4 separate regions of the Homo sapiens genome follow, and regions 2, 3 and 4 are each linked to region 1. Evidence: fine-mapped expression QTL. A gene starts in region 1. Each other region holds a variant in brackets. All regions are shown on one strand. Distances are from middle to middle. Region 1 holds the start of ATP11A (ATPase phospholipid transporting 11A). Region 2 holds the start of LOC124903252 (a long non-coding RNA gene). Region 3 overlaps ATP11A (ATPase phospholipid transporting 11A). Region 4 overlaps ATP11A (ATPase phospholipid transporting 11A).

Region 1 (5,143 bases):
GCCCCAGCTGACCCCCAGAAGAATGCAGCTGCAGGACAATCCCAGCCAACAACAGGTGGAGCAGAAGCACCATCGCACCAATTCCGCAGGGTCCTGAGAAATGGTAACCCACTCACTGCCGTTTCAGCTCCTGCACTCGCGGTCACTCGTGACACAGCCAAAAATAACTGACTCACAGGGTGTCTTAGTCTGCTCAGGCTGCTGTAACAAAATCCTTTAGATGGCTATTCATACACACAGAAGTTTGCTTCCCACAGTTCTGAAGGCTGAGAAATCCAAGATCAAGGTCCCAGCAGATCTGGCATCTGAGAAAAGTTCTCTGCTTCATAGAAGGCCTCTTCTAAGCATCTTCATATGGCAGAAAGGGCAAGCAGGCTCCCAAAAACCTCAGTTTTAAAGGGCACTAATCCCATTCCTAACCACCTCCCAAGGCCCCCACCTCTTAATATTTGGGATTAGGTATCAGGTATTTGGGATTAGGTTTCCACGTGTGAATTTGGGAGGACACCTTCAGACCATAGCACAGGGTGAGTTGGACTTTGTTTTTTAATAGCCCTGATTTTTTTTTCTTAGATTTACCGTGAAGATGCTGACATGTGTTAGAAACAGAAAATCCAGCTCATGTGGTTTAAACGGAGACGTCTCTCATAGCAGGAAATTCCAGGTGAGGGCAGCAGGATTTTGGTGAATTGCCTGGTTGTGCCACCAAGGACTCCTGCTCTTCTCATCTTCCCAGGCGGCCACCCCAGGGTGAAGATGCTCTTCCGGCCACCTTCTCTTATAAGTGCAAAGGGCTGCGGAGCACCAGGCATTGCATCCAGACAGGGAATGCAACATTCACCAGGGAAAAAGGAGCATTTCCTCTTTATGTTCCTGTAGGAGTGAGAAAACCTTTGCCAGACAACCCCCAGCAGGCTTCCTGTTGGGACTCATTGACTTGAGCTTGTTTGAAGCCAATTGTTGGAAAGAGAAATGGAGTTACCAAGATTTTCTCAAGAGACAGAGTTTACCCTTAGCCACACAGAGTGGATACCTGAACCAGCAAGGATAGAGAGGGCATGGCTGCTGCATTGTCAACCAACAGTATTCACAACAGAATGAAAAACAATTCACATTTACTACTGAATAAAGCAGACACTCCTGACAGACAGGCAGCCTTGATCTAGTGCCTTATACAACCTCTGATTGCGCCTCGACCCCAATCCCACAGTCACGGTTTACAAGGTAGAAGCTTAGTCAAAATCCGGCTTCAGCAGTCAGGGTTCTTGCAGGAAACTGAAGGTGTTCTTGGGAGGGGATTTGGAAGCGAGTTTGATGAAGGACTCTTTGTTGCGGTGTGGTCATGGTTCAAGGATCCTTCAAAGGGTGCTGCTATTTAGGGACCAGCAACAATGGCAGACCGACAACATGTCTCACCCTAAGAGGCTTGGGGGCGGGGAGAAGTTCTGTTCGTAGAGCCTAGAGGAGTTGTGCAATGGAAAGGGCACCCAGGAAGAATCGTAGCCACAGAGTGAAACCAACACTGGTGGGTGTGGGGCCAGGCCAGGAAGGAGAGGGGAAGAGGCCCCTGCCTCCCTCCTACCCGGTCTGCAGCAGGTTGTCCCTGTGGGTGAAGATCCACTGAGGGGGACCGCCAGCTTCCTGAGCACAGGGCAGGCCAGAGCAGGACAGGCTGGGATGGAAAATGAAGAATCAGTGCTTTAGCCGACAACAAATGGGAGCCGTTTACTGTTTAGTCACTATGATTAGTGTTCACTAGTACTCATTTCTCTTCGTCTAAAAAGTGGCCAACACCATCTCTTTTCCACAAGCACTCGGGAGAACATTCATATTCAATTGCCTTCCTAAGACCCAGACGGGGCAGCGCTCTCCACAGGCCACCAAAAGGTGTTGCCTGTTTGGTTTCATCAGTGATTATCTGTGGCAGCAAGACAGGAAGTTGGAAATCAAGTACCTCAATTAAGTCAAGGCTGACCGTGGAATTAGAGAACAAGTGTTTGTTACCCCGGCCAGGTCACCCTAGGGAAAACAGGCATTCTCCGGGATTGAAATGGTGGTGTTTGTGTGGTAAATAGTTCTCAGTCCAGTTCAAAGCCAGCAGCATTAAGGACACGCCACCGCCACCGGGAGCTGGAGACCAGGCGAAGCTGAGCTCCTCTGTGGTTCACCAACCCCTCAGGCCGCCTAAGTGTCTTCTGCTGTCGCAGCTTTGGGGACAGAGGGGTTTCGGAAACAGGGGCCTCTTGTCTGCACCCTCCCCTCCCACTGACAGGCTGGCAGCCCAGGGCAGCCACCTGAGGAGCGTCCCTGTGTCTCTCCATCTGCAGAGCAGGAAAAGCCTGCGGGTCGGTGGCGCCACGCTGGGGCGAGACCCAGCTTCGGCTCAGGAGATCTCCCACCCAGCCGGACTCCCGCTCTCTGCCCGCGGCCCCCTCCCACACTCCCACCTCGCCCCGCGATCTCACTGCCCCATCGAGGCTTCCGGGCGGAGGAGAAAAGTTTTCCGGCAGGAACCCGGGAAGGAAGCCCTGGGACCCTGGCTGAAACTCCGGGTTTCCCCAGTGCCGAGTCCCTTCCCCGCCGCGCCCAGCGCCTGCGCCCCGGGAGGCGGAAGCAACAGGGGGGTTCCTCCCCGCGGCCTCTGACCTCTGCCCTCTGCCCTCTGCCCCCAGGGTCTGGGGCCCGGGCGGAGGCGCGAGGGGGCAGGGCCGGCGCGCGGGTGCGAGCGCGGGTGTGGGCGCGGGGCCGGCGGGGGCTGCGGCCGCGGGGCGCATGCTCACTTGCGCCGGTGACGTGCGCGCCCGGAGCAGGGGCAGGAGCCAGCGGGGCCCGGAGGCTCCAGAGGGCGGCGGGCAGGGGAGGAGGAGACTCGGGAGGAGCAGAGCGCAGGCTCCGCCGCGGCCGGGGTGCTCCAGCCGAGCCCAACCGAGCGGGCGGACCGACGGGGAGAGAGAAGGCGCCAGAGCGCGCGCGCGCGGCCCCGAGCAGCAGCCTTGCCGCCAGTGGAGCAGCTGCCGACGCGCGGGGCCGCGGACCCAGCATTCGCCGGCCGGGCCGGGCATGAGCGCGGAGGGGCCGCGGCCGCCCCCTGCACCGCCCGGCGCGCCGAGGCCGTGACCGGAGCGGGGGGCGCGGCCGCACTAGTACCCCGGAGCCCATGGGCGCGCCGAGCCGGGCGCGGGGGCGCTGAACGGCGGAGCGGGAGCGGCCGGAGGAGCCATGGACTGCAGCCTCGTGCGGACGCTCGTGCACAGATACGTGAGTGCTCCCGGCGCGGGCTGGGGGACCCGGGGACCAGACAGACGCGGGCCGGCCCCGCAGCCCGGACCCTGTGGCCGGTCCAGCCCCGGGGTCCCGGGAGGTCTCCGATGTCTGGGACTCGGACCGCCCCCGGGGACGAGCGGGATGCTGGGGAGGGGCCTCGGAGTTGACACCCTGGGGCTTCCGACGGGGTCTAGGTGGGCACAGCGCGGGGCCCCAGCCCCGGGCGGCCACCTGCTCCCTGGCCGCGGCCGCCTGGCGCCCCCTTCCCGCCCGCAGCGCCCTGGGGGTCCCTCGGAGAGGCTGGCTGGGGTTCGAGCTGTCCCGGCGGACCGGGCGCCCGGAGGGAGCCAACTTCGACCCCGCCGGGGCCCGGGTCTGGGGAGGAACCTTCAGATGCGGCTTCCGCGCAGCCGTGTCTGTAAGATTAAGGGATTGGGAGGAAGCGTTACACTTCTGCAGAAAAAGGTAGCAATTGTGTTTGTTCTTTAACACCCCTGGGGGATTCAGAAGCGGAGTTTGGAATCTTTTTATTTTTTACCTTAAAGTAACCAATTAGATCAGAAGTCCGGGGTCTTCTTGGGTTCCTCTGGAATTTGCCCCTTCAGTGATAAGCAAGTGAAGAGCTCAGGAGGGAAGACTCGGAAGGGGAAAAGTTGATTTTGTTTTACACCAGAGGAGGGGAAACCGGAATCCCTGGCGTTAGGTGTAAAAAGGGGTGTGTGGCCGGGCGCGGTGGCTCACGCCTGTAATCCCAGCACTTTTGGAGGCCGAGGCGGGCGGATCACGAGGTCAGGAGTTTGAGACCAGCCGGACCGACATGGTGAAACCCCGTCTCTGCTAAAAAATACGAAAATTAGCCGGGCGTGGTGGTAGGCGCCTGGGATCCCAGCTACTCAGGAGGCTGAGGCAGGAGAATCGCTTGAACCCGGGAGGCGGTGGTTGCAATGAGCCGAGATCGAGCCACTGCACTCCAACCTGGGTGACAGAGCGAGACTCTGTATCAAAAAAAAAAAAAAAAAAGGGTGTGTGTGTGTGTGTGTGTGTGTAGGAGAGGAAGAAAACTGTCCCAAGCACAGCGTTTCCTGCCACTGTCTTGCACAAGAGGCTTCATTGTTCCATAGAGGCTGGCGGTCACTGGTCAATCACAGGTTCGAGAAGTCGCATGCACCGGGTTTGATACTAGAGAGGGCAGTATTATGGGAACTTTGTTCTTTCCCGGCATAGGAATTACCTCAGGCAGCCTTTCATATTTATGAGCCTTCTTTAAATAGGAGACCTTGGCCAAAGATAGATAGGTTTCTTTTCAGTGGGGGATGCCAGATCAATGCTTTCCCCCGGATTTATTTATTAACCAAAAACCTCGGAGAGTCAAGGAGACTTGAGTGCACCTTACATCGTTTCCTGATCTCGGGGAAGCCTTAGGAAGGTCAGCCTGACTTACTTAAGTGGAGAGAACTCACCCCTGGTGATTCTGATGATTCCGATGCTAGATCTTGAAAGGCTTGGCTCCAGGAGCCTTGTGTTACTCCCTCACTGGTGCTCGAGCCCCCAGTTCAAATCCTAATGTGAGTGGTAAACCTGTGTTTCACTGTGGTAACGTTATAGAAGACCCAATCACAGTGACTATAGGTAACCTGCAGTGTAAGAGAAATGCTTTATTGGGCGGAAGCTTCTGTTCTCAGTTGTGTCGCTCAGAAGTGTGGGTCCCTAGACACCTTATTTTCCTGCTTTGTTTCCTTCGAGCGAAATGGAAGAGGGAAGGGACTAACACTCACTTTGCCCGCGGTGTTCCCAGTTCATTCCGTTCCCTTCTAACACTCAGTGTTAAAAAGGAGGGTCACGTTGTGGGGCTAATGTGCAGCCTCTTTCCATAGAAATG
Region 2 (5,143 bases), 95 kb after region 1:
CTGTTTTCTGAAGCCATGGCACAGACAAGAATACTCATTCCTACTTGTGTCGGGTTAAACGCCGCTACACTGTTGGGCTGTATCTGAGTTGTTTTTGATGTAATTATTTAATGATAAACGTCTGCTCGCCGGTGTTGAGACTTTGGAGTGGGCTTCATCCATTCATCCTGATCGTTCCTCCATGAGACAGGGTCCCTTTGTTGCTGGCTGGAAGCGGCCGGGAAGCGTGGGCTCGCTGTGGCATGGGCAATGCCACACGGCTCCAGGGAAGCGTTCAGCTTTCCAAACCAGTGTCTGGGCTCGTGGCCACTCCTGAAATTCAGTTGCCGTCTTTGAAGCTTCGAAGAAAGTTTCTAGGATTTTCACTTTTGTATTAAAAGATATCTGTATGCTTTTCTCTCTTTTTCTGGTTCACTTATATTCTTATTCAGTGCAATTTCCTGATTTCACGAGAATGAGAAGCATCTATTTGGCTATGTTCTGTGAAAACAAAGGAGCCAGGGACTTTGCTTAGCCTTTATAGGCAGCAGTTTATTTATGAAGCTCTTAGGATGCTTTTAAAGTCCACATCCCTGTGGTTTGTTGGCTTCACCACAAAATAGAGACAGCAGGGAAGGCCCCCGTCAGGCAGGGAGACCCAGTCCCGGAGGAGGAGGGCCCGTCCTCGTGGGGAGGGGCAGCCAGGCTGTGGCATGGTCAGGGCAGTGGGGCTGTGCTGCCCACCTGGCTTTGAGTCCAGGATGACGGTTACTGCATGGCCAGCAGGCTCGCGGGGAGGCCACGACCCAAGGTCGCGCTGAGGAAAACTGCGTCTGGCTCATTTGAGGGTGGAGTGTTCCTCCCTGGCCTGGTGGCTGCCTTGTACGTCTGTCCCCAGGAGCATGGAAGCCTCGGCTCCCCGTGGAAACACTGGTTGATAGTCTCAGCCAAACATCTCTGAAAACACAGTTGGGGCACATGGAGACTGCTGTGGTCTCTTTCCGTTATTTTACTTAGACTTTTCTGCAAAGCTGAGTCCTAATAAAAGAAATTGCAGGTGAATTACCGATGGAATTTATTAAAGCAAATGTGCAGACATTCACACAGCTCCTGTCCGGGACGTTCTGGGTGGGACAGTGTGGAAAGACTTCCTCTGAGAGGTTGGTAGGGGAGCAGAGGAGCTGATGACATCAAGTCCAAAAACAGCCCCATGAGGTTTATAAACAAGAGCACCACGCAGACAGGGACTCCAGACTGTTCAGACCCTGCCTGCCTTTTTTGGCTTTAAAAAACGAGAGTTCCCTGAAGCACCGAGGGGCAGCCCACACAGAGAGGACTTGGCCCTGAGCATTTACAAGTGTCTGTGCTGGGCCGGGCCCCTGGCCTTGTTCTGTTCCCGTTGCCTCATTTCATGCTCCAGGACCCTGAGAAAGTGCTGGTGTCCCCCTCATGGGTGAGAAGCTCAGCGGGAAACTGTCCCCGTGCCTGCGGCGAGGAGTGGCCCAGCAGCCAAGGGTCAGCCCTTCGACGGCAGTGCCCGCTCGTCCTTCCCGTCCCACTGCACCAGCATTCCCCTCATGGAGGAGGCTTCCGTCTCCTCTTCAGCTGTGTTTCTCATGCCCCAGAAAGGCTGATGTCTTGCAGTTCCTACAGAGAACTGGGGCGTGGGACGAGAGCCACACGCTAAGGCCCCGTATTCCGAGGTGGGCTCAGGGCCATGGCCAGGGCTGCGTATTCAGATGTGGCGTTTGGATTTCCCGTTACGAGCTAAAGTATTTTTGTGGTTTTAGTGCTGACATCAAATGGCCCGCCTGAGTGTTGTTGAAATATTTCTTGTCAGAGCTGTTTCCTTAACTCCTCCAAATACAGTGTTCCGAGTAATACAGAGATGGTCAGGCCCAAGTCAGCTTTGCAGGAGAGCCTTCCTGTTCCTGAGCAGACACCTAGCAGGGTTGAGCGACTCTTACCCATCTGCAGATGCAGGGCCGGTGACCCCACAGTGGGGCAAGAGCCTGGAGAGCTCTTGGCTTTGCCCAGGAAGGAATTCAAGGGCAAGCAGGAGGCGGAAGAAACAGCTTCATTGAAGAGGCTACAGCTCCCTGACTGCCCCTGCAGAGCGGGGCTGCCCTGTTAGGCGGAGAGGAGTAGCTCAGGGCAGATTTAATTGCATGCAGATTAAGGGGTGGTTTATGCAGAAATTTCTAGGAGAAGGATGTAACTTGTAGGCGATCGGGTCATTGCCATGGAAAGGGGCCGCAGCTCCTGGCTGTTGCCATGGCAATGGTAAACTGATATTCACACCGCGGGCATGTCTTATGGAAAGCTGCCTCTGCCCCAGCCCTGTTTTCACCAGTCCTCAATCTGGTCCGGTGTCCAAGCCCC[A/G]CCTCTGGAGTCAAGTCCCGCCTTCTACCCCAGTATCATAGTTTTTCTTTCCTCTTCCATTAAAGACCTTTCCCAACATCACTGTCTCTTCTGTTTTGGAAGCCTTACGATTTGGCCACACGTTCTGTTCTTTTTTTTTTTTTTTGAGACAGAGTCTCGCTCTGTCCCCCAGGCTGGAGTGCAGTGGTGCTATCTCGGTCACTGCAAGCTCCACCTCCCGGGTTCACGCCATTCTCCTGCCTCAGCCTCCTGAGTAGCTGGGACTACAGGCGCCCACCACCACACCCGGCTAATTTTTTGTATTTTTTAGTAGAGACGGGGTTTCACCGTGTTAGCCAGGATGGTCTCCATCTCCTGACCTCGTGATCCGCCCATCTCGGCCTCCCAAAGTGCTGGGATTACAGGCGTGAGCCGCCGCGCCCGGCCGCGTTCTGTTCTTATGTACACGCCCTGAGCTGTTTCCACTGGCAGTCAGCTTTGAAGTTCACTGTGTGGCTCTCACAGGAGCGCAGACCCTCCTGGTGCTCACCAGAAGACCTTGGCCCATGAGGGCTGCGTAAGACAGGGTGGCTCGGGCCTGGGGTGCTGGGCCCCAGGTCTCCCTGCAGCCCTGAACGATGCTCTCAGCAGCAGGTACAGGTCTCCGTTCCGACGAACGTGCCTCAAGGCAACACTCTGGGCAAGAGCTTTTGATGCAGGTTCTGAGGCAGCTGCCTAACACCGCTCTCCTTTCCGCAGTGTGCAGGAGAAGAGAATTGGGTGGACAGCAGGACCATCTACGTGGGACACAGGGAGCCACCTCCGGGCGCAGAGGCCTACATCCCACAGAGATACCCAGACAACAGGATCGTCTCGTCCAAGGTAACTTGGCTTGGGTCTGAGTGTCCATAATGTGTCTAAAAAGCAGCTGCCGGGGGGTGTTAGTGCTTCTCGGTTTCAAAGAGCGGCTCTGCTCCTGGCCCTGCTGTCACAGCCACCAGCCACCCCCAGCAAGGGCTTCGGATCAGGACCTCACCGAGGGCGCTACTCTCTCCCTCTCGGTGACTGCCCACAGGAGGCTTTCCACCTGCCCAGGGCTCACAGCGCAGTGTCTCCATTCTCGGGTGACCGTGCCACAGAGGCAGTGCAGGTCTGAAGTCCAGGATCCAAACCCTACCCAGGTCCCACTTCTGAGGCGCCTGGCCACGTGCTTGTCGTGGGCCACCCTGGCCAGAGTCTCAGTGCCAGTAAGGTAGAAACGATACCAGCCACCCCGGAGAAAGAGCCAACAAACGCAGGCTGGACAGCAAAACCTGGGGGGAAATCTTTGAGCTTGTTCACGAGGTGCAGCCCAGGTAAAGCGTAGGAAGCACAAGCAGAGTGCCGCGGTCTAAACGAAGCGTGTTTCTCTCCATGGACTAGAGCGTGGAAGTGCACACACATTTCCCACGTTCAGAGAGTGACCTGGAAACAGGTCTTAAGAACAAGGTGGAAATTTAGCTGCTGCCATTAAACATGGGGTAAACTGTGCTTTCCAGGTAATGCGGAACGCACGTGCCTGCGTTCAGACTCCATTTATCTTCACCGTCCTTCAAAATGGATGAGCTAAACCCACGCACACGCGTGGACGGGCTGCACATGGGGTAAACTGTGCTTTCCAGGTAATGCGGAACGCACGTGCCTGCGTTCAGACTCCATTTATCCTCACCGTCCTTCAAAATGGATGAGCTAAACCCACGCACACGCGTGGACGGGCTGCACATGGGGTAAACTGTGCTTTCCAGGTAATGCGGAACACACGTGCCTGCATTCATACTCCATTTATCTTCACCGTCCTTCAAAATGGATGAGCTAAACCCACGCACACGCGTGGACGGGCTGCACATGGGGTAAACTGTGCTTTCCAGGTAATGCGGAACGCACGTGCCTGCGTTCAGACTCCGTTTATCTTCACCGTCCTTCAAAATGGATGAGCTAAACCCACGCACACGCGTGGACGGGCTGCACATGGGGTAAACTGTGCTTTCCAGGTAATGCGGAACGCACGTGCCTGCGTTCAGACTCCGTTTATCTTCACCGTCCTTCAAAATGGATGAGCTAAACCCAGGCACACGCGTGGACGGGCTGCACATGGGGTAAACTGTGCTTTCCAGGTAATGCGGAACGCACGTGCCTGCATTCAGACTCCGTTTATCTTCACCGTCCTTCAAAATGGATGAGCTAAACCCAGGCACACGCGTGGACGGGCTGCACATGGGGTAAACTGTGCTTTCCAGGTAATGCGGAACGCACGTGCCTGCATTCAGACTCCATTTATCTTCACCGTCCTTCAAAATGGATGAGCTAAACCCACGCACACGCGTGGACGGGCTGCACATGGGGATGCCTGTGGCGGCCCACCATTCACACGTGTGCCCTCACCTGTAGACGCATTTAATTTACATTGGGTGTCCTGCCGTGTAAACTTCTGTGGAGACCTACTTAATTCACACCAAGTGTCCTGATGTGTAGACCCCTGCGATAGACCTACTTAATTCACACCGGTGTCCTGACGTGTAGACCCCTGTGGAGACCTACTTAATTCACACCGGGTGTCCTGATGCGTAGACCCCTGTGGAGACCTACTTAATCCACACCGGGTGTCCTGATGCGTAGACCCCTGTGGATACCTACTTAATTCACACCGGGTGTCCTGATGCGTAGACCCCTGTGGAGACCTACTTAATTCACACCGGTGTCCTGACGTGTAGACCCCTGTGGAGACCTACTTAATTCACACCGGGTGTCCTGATGCGTAGACCCC
Region 3 (5,143 bases), 180 kb after region 1:
GCAGTGGTGGAGGGTGGCCAGCCCCAGAGGCAGATCTGCTGAAGGAGTGAGGCTTTCGCACTGGTCAGGTTCTTGGCTGAGATGTGCCTGTCACATGAGGACAGGGTTCCACAGAAATCAGAAACAGGAGCTTCACTGGGGATGGCGTTGATGTCACTTGGAAGAAAAGGGTCCCTGTGAAAAGCCCTTTGAAAAAGGAGATTGGTATCCCAGGGATGCCTGCCACCCCCAGAATCTGATGGAAATAACGACCAGCAATTGTAGTAATAAACTATCCGCACATGTTAGTCCATTTTCACATGGCTCTGAAGAGCTACCTGAGACAGGGTGATTTAGGAAGAAAAGAGGTTTAATCGAGCCACAGTTCTGCAGGCTGCATAGGAAGCATCGCTGGGGAGGCCTCAGGAAACTTACAATCATGGCGGAAGGCAAAGGGGAAGCAAGGCCCTTCTTTACAAGGCTGCAGGAGAGAGAGAGCAAAGGGGAAAATGCTACACACTTTGAAACAACCAGATCTCATGAGAACTCACTCGCCCACCGTCAACGAGATCTGCAAGGAGGACGTCCATGATTCAGTCACCTCCCACCAGGCTCTCCCTCCAACACACGGGGATTATAATTTGAGATGAGATTTGGGTGAGGACACAAAGCCAAACCACATCATGGCAGTTCACCTGGGGGCCCCACTTCAGGCCACCAAGGGAATAAGAGGGCTTTCCAGAGATGCGTTTCAGGATAGCTCCACAGTGGACTAGCTTCCAAAGGACGTGGACACAGGTTAGTAATGGGTCAGCGTTTCTCAGGGGCCCTGACCAAGGTGCCTGATTCTGGATTCACGATAGCTGTGCTTTGTTCCTCACCTATAAAGCTTACAGCTGTGGCCCATGTGCTCTGCAGGACCAGGCATCCTGAGGCCTAACTCCTTATCCCAGTTCTGCCATTACCCCCTAAACCCAGGGAGCCCCAGCTGGGAGCTTAGAAAGGCAGTTTCTCGGCTCACAGCAGGGAGAGGGGACAGTGAGGAGGCCGTGTGAGTTGACTGCAGTTATCACCTGTGGCGCTGTTGGTGACACACACTGCTTCACAGGGCACCCTTGAGTTCATGTCTTGCTGCCATCTAACTCTTTCAGAGTTCTGTGTTGGGATGGCCAAGGTGAGGCCTGGGGGAGGAAGAGGAGAGCTGGGCAGCGTCAGGGGCTTTTCCTCCAGGCCCAGCTGATGTGGTTGTCTGGGTGCAAAGCCGCCCTCAGCTGCTGTGGAGGCACCACTTGGCTGAAAGCATCAGCTTCCAGTTACAGCACAGCAGCCTCCCGCCCTCCAGCACCTTGCTGGCCACATGTGCTTGTAGGCTGCTGCCAAGCCACAGCTGTTCCTAGAGGCATGATATTTTCCTGCCCCAGAAGTTAAGCCACAAAGAGACGGCACTTTTTGGTGAGTGTGAAACAGGCTTCTCACCCGGGCTCTGCTGACATTGGGGCCAGATGTACATCCTCGTGGGCCACTGTCGTGTGCACTCAGCAGCCCCTCCACCCCCCCATCCAAAGCTAGCAGACCCCACGCCCCAGAAATGTCTCCACCACGGCCAGGTGTCCCTGGGGGCAAGGCTGCCCCAGCCGAGAACCACAAGCATGTGTAGATCTGAGTGACACTGTAGGCCAGGCATTTCCAAGCCAGAAGGAGGAGGCCCACTTCTGATCACAATGAGGAAGTGAGGGAAAAACTGAAGGATGTGTTGATGGGGGCCCCTAAGAAGCGGTGTTCACTACAAAAGGTCCTAACACTTTTTTCTATAATCTACAAATGAGATGTTATCCTGTTATCCCACTGACCATGTGGGAGGACTGTAGCCCACACCCTCCCTCAGCTAAATCAAGGGGTATGGTGATGGGTGTGTTGTTTTGGTTGAAACTGAATTCTGAAGAACAGCCATTTGTATTCCAGCTTTTTAAGAGACAGAGTCTGTGCTCTGTCGCCCACGTTGGAGTGTAGTGGCGTGATCTCTGCTCACTGCAACCTCCGCCTCCCGGGCTCAAGCAATTCTCCTGCCTCAGCCTCCCTAGTGGCTGAGATTACAGGCAGGCGCCGCTACGCCCGGCTAATGTTTGTATTCTTAGTAGAGACGGGGTTTCACCATGTTGGCCAGGCTGGTCTCAAACTCTTGACCTCATGATCCGCCCACCTCGGCCTCCCAAAGCGCTGGGATTACAGGCATGAGCCACCACACCCGGCCCGCTTTTTAATTCTTTATAAAATAAAATTCCCTGCGAGGTGCAGTTCATGGAATCCGATAAACTAGAAATCGTCTGGGCCACAGCGCAGGAGCGTCCCAAAGGAAAGCAGGTTCTCCCGAAACAAGTTTCCAGTCGGGGGTTTTCCCCAAGGCGGGGGGTGGTCTGGGCAGCAGCCCTTTCTGGCCTGTGCCTCGTGCGGTAGAGAGGCGTGCTGTCCTCACGGGTCGGGCACGCGGTCCTCACGGGTGTGTCTGTGTCTGTGCTGCGTTGCCAGCTGGCAGCTCGTGGGTCCCACTGACCTTCCCTCCTCCACGGCCACCTGGGCACCACTGCTGGCGGATCTGTGGTTCTGGCCGCACGCGGGGCAGCCTCTGTCCAGCCCTGTCCTGTCTGCCGGCTTGTCTTCTCTGTCCTGAGGGAGGTTCCCCGAGGGAAGCCCCCAGGCTTCCCCCTCTGCATGGGTGCCTGGGGTGTTTCCTCTGCATTTACTCGCAGAACGTTCCCGCCGCTGTTCTTCAACAGCAGGCAGGAGTCTGAGCTGAGTTCAGAAGGGAACAGACACAGTCTGTGAGTTTGTTCCTGAAACCCGTGGAATGTAGCTGGGTACTCAGGCAACTGTCTTTTCTACGTAAAACACAAAACAGAAAAAGGAGGTTTGCGTGTACCCGAGTTTGCATTATGGATATTTAAATGCCAGCTGTGAGGGAGTTTTTGTGCTCAGTTTGAGACCTTGGGACGTCTGTTGTGGCTGAGAGCATTGAGCAGGGCCAGCGTCAGGAGCGGGCAGCAAGTTGCAGATAGGCAGGCTCTGAGCCCATCACCAAGCCACAGAACTGGTGGTGGGAGATGCAGCCGGGAAATGGGGGCGTCCTGCCGTGCTCTGGGGAGTTGCTGCATCTTCTTTTACGGGATAATAAGAAAATATAGTGCTTATATCTTTGGGGTTTGAAGTGTTGGCAC[A/G]CAAGAAAAATGAGGTGTATTTTCTAAAACTCTTGATTGTGAAAGAGAAAAAAAAATACATAAAAACGAGATGACTTGGACTATTTTCCCCAAACAGATATTTGGAAACTGGACGTTTGGAACGCTGGTATTCACCGTGATGGTGTTCACAGTTACACTAAAGGTAAGTGGTCTCGCGCTCACGTTCCTCCCCCAGCCACAGTGAACCCCTGCAGTGTAGGCCTCACGCGCTCTGAGCTCTCTGAATTATAACTCTGTACTGAGGCTGGAAGCCACTCTCCACCCAGCCTTGGCTGGCTCCTGGGGCACCCCTGGGCATCCTTGTCCTGCTGTTTAGACAAGTAATGCACAGCCACTCAGCACACCCGGCCACCCCATGTGCAAACCCCAGAGCTACACCGGAGGTAACCTCGGGAGCAAGCTGCTTCTTTGTGAAAGAATTCAGGCTAGAATTGTTTTCAGTGGCAAGTAGCCCTCCCCCCAGCGCCATCAAAATACACTTTAATTGAAACAAATTAATGTATTTTGAAAAATTTCACTCTTTAAAGTTCAGTGAAATTATATACAGAATATATCATTATGAAATCTCAAAACCTATCAGACTGAGTCTTAAAAAGTGATACCAAAACATTCCTAAGGTGATTTTCTTAGATAGTGATGTAAACAACACCTGACTCTAAAGTAACTTTCTGGCCAGGCATAGTGGCTCACACCTGTAGTTCCAACACTTTGGGAGGCCAAGGTGGATGGATCACCTGAGGTCAGCAGTTCGAGACCAGCCTGGCCAACATGGCAAAACCCCATCTTTACTAAAAACACAAAAAGTAGCCGGGCATGGTGGCACGCGCCTGTAATCCCAGCTACTTGGGAGGCTGAGGCACGAGAATCGCTTGAACCCGGGAGGTGGAGGTTGCAGTGAGCCAAGATCGCACCACTGCACTCCAGCCTGGGCGACAGAGCGAGACTGTCTCAAAAAAATTTTAAGAAGTAACTTTCTTCAGTAGAGACATAAAGAACACCTTAATCTGAATGACTTTCTTCGGTGACGATATAAACAACACCTTGGTCTGTGGCCCGCATGCTGCCATCTGGGAAATACATCCATGGCTCCCTTACCTAGGACCCAGGGCTGTGGCGTCCCCACATTCTTCCTCTCCACTCACACTGTGAGGTGTGGCTTTGTCTTCCTGAGCAGTGTGAGGTGTGGCTTTGTCTTCCTGAGCAGTGTGAGCTGTGGCTTTGTCTCCCGAACGGTGTGAGGTGTGGCTTTGTCTTCCTGAGCGGTGTGAGGTGTGGCTTTGTCTTCCTGAGCGGTGTGAGGTGTGGCTTTGTCTTCCTGAGCGGTGTGAGGTGTGGCTTTGTCTTCCTGAGCGGTGTGAGGTGTGGCTTTGTCTTCTGGAGCGGTGTGAGGTGTGGCTTTGTCTTCCTGAGTGGTGTGAGGTGTGGCTTTGTCTCCTTAATGGTGTGAGGTGTGGCTTTGTCTTCCTGAACGGTGTGAGGTGTGGCTTTGTCTTCCTGAGTGGTGTGAGGTGTGGCTTTGTCTTCCTGAGCGGTGTGAGGTGTGGCTTTGTCTTCCTGAGTGGTGTGAGGTGTGGCTTTGTCTCCTTAATGGTGTGAGGTGTGGCTTTGTCTTCCTGAGCGGTGTGAGGTGTGGCTTTGTCTTCCTGAACAGTGTGAGGTGTGGCTTTGTCTTCCTGAGCGGTGTGAGGTGTGGCTTTGTCTTCCTGAGCGGTGTGAGGTGTGGCTTTGTCTTCCTGAGCGGTGTGAGGTGTGGCTTTGTCTTCCTGAGCCGTGTTTTGCAGGCATTGAGTCGTCATTGCTGGGTCTTGCGTTTGGTTTAGTTTCTCGTCACCCCCCGGCTCTCTGTCCTGCCCATCACGATCATTCTCACTGCTCAGATGACACCGTTAACTGCCCTTTTTTTTTTCCTTTTAGCTTGCATTGGACACACA
Region 4 (5,143 bases), 28 kb after region 1:
TCTGTATTTACAGTTGATTAAAATCTTACTTTCTCTGGGAATTCTTTACAGATTAATCTTCTTCCAAAGACAACCCTAACCTGTGCCTTTTCAGCAGTTGTGCTATTTTGCAGGACGAATTCGCACCTGTTTCTGTGTTGCTCTGTGATCATTCCCAAGTGGCTTGGGCTTGGAGCCCTGTTGCTCACACCTCTGGGGGCCGGGGAAGGTGTTTGCCAGAGAGACAGAGTGTATGGCCTTGAGGGCACCTTCTCCTTAGAAATCCGATCCCATTCCTTTCCCCTTCTCCCACTAAGGGCTCTCTGAGGGATGGTAGTGGCTGGGTGTGGAATTGGGTTTTGCTTTGCTTTCTCTCCCCAGCAGCTCTGGGCAGGCTGGCTCTGTGGGGGCCTGGGGGTGGCTCCTGCCTGGACTTTGAGAATTGGAGAGGCTTGGAGCTCATTCTCAGTGGAGTTCCCGGTGGCTGCTCCGTCTTCTGAGCCTGGTCCTCTGGCCTTCTGCAGATGCTGGGAGCCACAGCACCCTGTGATAGACCTTTTGCCAGAGCTCCCATGAGAAGCATCCACCGTGGTGGGGCCAAGTCCCTAGGCCCCAGGCATTCCCCATCTGGTGGGAAGTGGGGGCTTTAGCAAGTCGCATCTCTCTCTGCCCCTCCTGGTGAGCTCTGCTCCGACAGCTGTGGGAACCCGTGGGAATGCCCACCTAGGTGCGTGTGGCCTGGCGTCTCCCCAGATTCACTTCCTAGTTTTTCACTTCACGTGGCCCAGACACTCAGAAGGAACCACCAACCCAGTGGTCTGTGGTGGCTCTGGGGGCCTGTGGGGGCCACCACCTCTAGTCTCCTGGTAGGCATCCCCTCCGCCTCTGGGAGGACGGGAGCCGGGACAGAGGGGGCAAGGAGGCCTCCTGGGACTGGGGCGTTCCCCACCTTCCACTGTGCCGGTCTTCATGCAGGGCCAGAGCCTGGCTCGGGGCTGGGTTTGCACTGAGCCAGGTCCTGACTCTCACCCATGTCTTGGGCACGTCGATGGGGCCGGGCCGCTGGAGAGGGTGTGAGAGCAGGTTCCTCCCCAGGTCTCAGCCAGTGACGGGGCCCATCCTGGACTTGGGGGCTCTGCGTGAGTGGGGCAGTGGCAGCTCCTGCAGGGCCCAGGTGGGGTGTGGGTAGGTCGGGGAGGCTGCTGGCCTCCCAGCCTCCCTCAATTTCTGCGTTCTAAAGATGGCTATGTGCAAAATAAAGGTGAAATGATGGGGCAGTACTGGATCAGGTGGACATCCGGGAGCTGGAGGCCCGTGCACTTTCCCTGGGACGGGCAGAGGCTTGTGGTGTCCACCCACAGACGCAGACCCACTGGCCTGCAGGGCCCATAGAGGCTGTTGTTGGCCCTGGTGATGAGTGGGGGACACGAGTATGTTCTGAAATGAGGGGGAGGCTTCTGTTGTGACCTTGACCAGGAAGAGAAAGAGAAGCCAGGAGGAGAGCAGACACGCTTCCGCCTTGAGGACGGCACTTGTTCAAGTGTAAAGAACGGAACAATCGGGACAAAATTTAAAATGCAAATATGGTCTCATTTATTTGTAATAAAAGGCTGCTGGAAAGTAGGTGCAGGAGTGGCCCAGGTTAGCATAATACTTTTTCTCCTAATCACATCCAACTTGTTTTTCTACTCTTATTTCAGAACATGCCCCCCCGCCATCCCAGGAGAAGCAGCAGCTCTCTGCCTCCTTGACTGAGCTCCATTACCTCCAAGCTGAGAGGGTTGTTCAAGAGGGCGTGTGGGATTCTTTTGAAAACACATTTTTAGAAAGCACCCTTTTAACAACTGAACATGATTTGGTTGAAAATAAACATCCCCGGGTACTCTTGTGGTACATGTTTATGATTTTGATGCTTCTGGTCTGAATGTACAACCTTCACATTGTACATTACAAACACTACTGTCAAGTTTATAGATTTTCATTTTATTTGCTAATTCATTTTTCAGTTCTCTGCACTGCTTGTAAATCAGGCAAACCTGATAAACTGTCTAAACATATGATGATACTGAATTGATTAAGTTATGGTCGTAGGTGAGAAAACAGTACATGTTGTGTGATGCCATTCCGAAAAAGTTTCAAACACACATCTGTGCATTAGAAATGATTGCCACGTGGCCAGGCACGGCGGCTCACGCCTGTAACCCCAGCACTTTGGGAGACCGAGGTGGGTGGATCACCTGAGGTCAGGAGTTTGAGACCAGCCTGACCAACATGGTGAAACCCCATCTCTACTAAAAATACAAAAATTAGCTGAGCGTGGTGGTGCATGCCTGTAATCCCAGCTACTCGGGAGCCGAGTCAGGAGAATCACTTGAACCCAGGAGGCAGAGGTTGCAGTGAGCCAAGATTGCACCACTGCACTGCAGCCTGAGTGACAAGAGGGAAACTCCATCTCAAAAAATTAATAAATAAATAAATGATTGCCACCGCCCCCTGCCCCCCACCCCGCCAAGGCGTGAACAGGAGTTGTCTCTCCCCCTTTGCTGTGTGATAGTCTTTTTGCTTGAATTTATTTTGCTTTTCCGTAAAGAACACTCATTGCTTTTACCATTGGATAAAAAGCATAAAAACAATATAGATATTAAAAGCACCTGGATTTTTTTGACGCTTTAACAATTTTAAATTTCTTTTCAGGTGACAATGTTCAACTCTGCTTTTTGTTTGTGCTCATGAAATTTTATTTGTTAGCCAGCCAAAGCCAAGTGTTTCCAGTTAAATTTACAACTCTTCTGTCTGTTCCAAACACAGCCTAAGCAAGAAGACAACTGTGCCGCCTGCCGCAAGTTTCATGTGAAATACCCCCAGAGGGCAGCCGCCTCCGCTGGGGGTCCTCCCTCCGAGGTGTGTGCGGTGGGGATGGGAACCCGCAGAGGCAGCACCCAGCTACTTGCCACTTAGGTTCTTCTAACTGCCCTCGAGAGATTGTCACTGGGTCCTGGATCCCTGGGTTTGGATTAGCAGTCGGACCAGGGTGGGCTTGCAGGCTGCA[C/CTT]TTTTTTTTTTTTTTTTGAGACTGAGTTTCATTCTTGTCACCCAGGCTGGAGGGCAATAGCACGATCTTGGCTCACTGCAACCTCCGCCTCCCAGGTTCAAGGGATTCTCTTGCCTCAGCTTCCTGAGTAGCTGGGATTACAGTTGCACGCCAACACTCCCAGCTAATTTTTTTTTCTTTTGTATTTTTAGTAGAGATGGGGTTTTACCATGTTGGCCAGGCTGGTCTCGAACGTCTGACCTCCGGCTATCCACCCGCCTTGCCCTCCCAAAGTGCCGGGATTACAGGCGTGAGCCACTGCACCTGGCCTGCTTTTGAAATAGGACGTAGGGATTGAGGGAGGGTTAGGATTTCAACGATGGCTTTAACAGAAGAAGAGAAGATGCTGAAAGTCCGGCTTATTTGAACTGTGTGTGTGTGACTTTGAATTGCGTCAAATGCCATCTTGGTGAACAGTTGGAGGGGCCCTCAGGATGCCCTGTGACGCGCAGGTGTGACTTTGAATCGCGTCAAAGACCGTCTTGGTGAATAGTCAGGGGCCCTCAGGATGCCCTGTGACGCGCAGGCAGGAAATTATGATGGTGTGTTTCAGGTATGCAAACTGCACCAGAGGCAACACAAAAGCAAGTCAATATAAAAAGACTCAATGCCTTGCATGCCTTTGTTATATTCTCACGTAATCTTCAATCTTCTGTTCATGACTTTGTTTTGAAACACTTTTAAAATGTAAGATTAATTAACTTGTAGGCTGTGGGAATAATCCCATTTGCCGAATCAAAATAATGTATCCTTGATTCCAACTGTCAGAAGACAAAATTACAAAACATTTAGTTATAGATCTGATTGGATTTTAATTACAATTCCTTAACGGGGCAGCGTCCGTTCTACATAATGAGAGCTCCCACTGGGCAATGGCAGAACAGTCAGTTTTGTAAGGTGGAAGCAAGGAAACAGAATAAGAAGCTGATGGTGAACTTCAGGTTACTTCAGGTTACTTCAGGTTACTTCTTTGTAGAGGGTAAAGCAGAGGGGACTTTGTCACTTGCTGACTCAGGTCAACAGAATCTCCTATTTTTGAGAAAAACCGGTCTGTTTTGGGACCTGTCACTTCTTTAAAGTTCCATTTTGGTGACGTGGCATTGAGCAGGAGCAACTCCATTCCTGTTTGGTCTGGTCTGTTGGGGCCTAGTGCTGGAGCTCAGTCCAAAACAACAGTCTCCCATAATTTAAAAAAAAGTATTTCCATTTCATTTCTGGAAATTCAGCCTAAGAAAGTCATATCCCAAGTGCCCACAATCATATCAGAATGTTCTTTGCAGCAGTATCTGTTGTAGCAATGAAAACATCTCAAGTCTGTGGATAAGGGATTGATCAAATACATTAATGACCATTCTGTTAATGGAAAGACCAAAGTCTGTAAACTATTTTAAAGAGGTTTATTCTGAGCCTGTCTAAGTGACTGTGGGCTGGGGAAACAGAGTCTGAGAAGGTGCACCTGAGGCAGTCAGATCACAGTTTGGGTTTGTATATTTTAGGGAGACAGGACTCACAGGCAAAGCCACAAATCGGTACATGGAAGGTATACATTGGTTTAGCCCAGAAAGGTGGGATTTCTTGAAACGGGTGTCACAGGCCATAGGTGGAGTCGGAGATTCTTCAGTGTGCGATTGGTTAAAGCAGTAAAGCTTTGTTGAAAGCCTGGAGCCAGTGGAAGGGAGTGTTTAGATGAGGAAACCCACGCCCGACGCGCAGGGTCAGGGTTACCTGTGGGGTGCGTTCACCTTCGTCTGCTGTGGCCGCGGGTCCCGTGAGCCTGGGTTGAGGCAAAGAGGTTGTGGAGACCGGGGCTTTATCACGCAGATGAAGCCTCTGGGTAGAGTCTGTTTGTTTTTTTTTTAATTTTTTTGAGACGGAGTCTCGCTCTGTCGCCAGGCTGGAGTACAGTGGCATGATCTCAGCTCACTGCAACCTCTGCCTCCTAGGTTCAAGCGATTCTCCTGCCTCAGCCTCCTGAGTAGCTGGGACTACAGGTGTGCACCACCACGCCCGGCTAATTTTTGTATTTTTTGTAGAGATGGGGTTTCACCGTGTTGGCCAGGCTGGTCTCGATCTCTT

The links. PIP is the estimated chance that this variant, and not a neighbour inherited with it, causes the effect.
Region 2: its variant is fine-mapped to the expression of ATP11A in whole blood (TOPMed, PIP above 0.99).
Region 3: its variant is fine-mapped to the expression of ATP11A in whole blood (TOPMed, PIP above 0.99). The same link has a PIP of 0.9 or more in blood mononuclear cells.
Region 4: its variant is fine-mapped to the expression of ATP11A in whole blood (INTERVAL, PIP above 0.99).

Annotation. Positions count from the first base shown.
Region 1 is chr13:112,687,198-112,692,340 of GRCh38, forward strand. ATP11A (ATPase phospholipid transporting 11A) reads left to right here and starts at 2,841. Exons shown (of 30, transcript NM_015205.3): 1 at 2,841-3,258. The coding sequence starts at 3,220. LOC102725228 (a long non-coding RNA gene) reads right to left here and starts at 2,618. Exons shown (of 2, transcript NR_187633.1): 1 at 2,466-2,618; 2 at 1-1,672. RefSeq lists enhancers at 1,678-2,195, 4,494-4,995 and silencers at 2,444-3,373, 3,394-3,633.
Region 2 is chr13:112,782,036-112,787,178 of GRCh38, forward strand. It overlaps ATP11A (ATPase phospholipid transporting 11A), which reads left to right. Exons shown (of 30, transcript NM_015205.3): 2 at 3,100-3,222. It overlaps LOC124903252 (a long non-coding RNA gene), which reads left to right and starts at 3,229. Exons shown (of 2, transcript XR_007063947.1): 1 at 3,229-3,878; 2 at 4,248-5,143. The variant A/G (reference allele first, on the strand shown) is at 2,362.
Region 3 is chr13:112,868,447-112,873,589 of GRCh38, forward strand. It overlaps ATP11A (ATPase phospholipid transporting 11A), which reads left to right. Exons shown (of 30, transcript NM_015205.3): 26 at 3,289-3,354; 27 at 5,127-5,143. Among named protein-coding and RNA genes, the nearest start is that of MCF2L-AS1, 98 kb to the right of the region's middle. RefSeq lists enhancers at 3,884-5,083, 4,223-4,724, 4,725-5,143, 4,846-4,895. The variant A/G (reference allele first, on the strand shown) is at 3,192.
Region 4 is chr13:112,715,643-112,720,785 of GRCh38, forward strand. The region is part of intron 1 of ATP11A (ATPase phospholipid transporting 11A); the gene reads left to right. Among named protein-coding and RNA genes, the nearest start is that of ATP11A, 28 kb to the left of the region's middle. RefSeq lists an enhancer at 3,807-5,006. The variant C/CTT (reference allele first, on the strand shown) is at 3,029.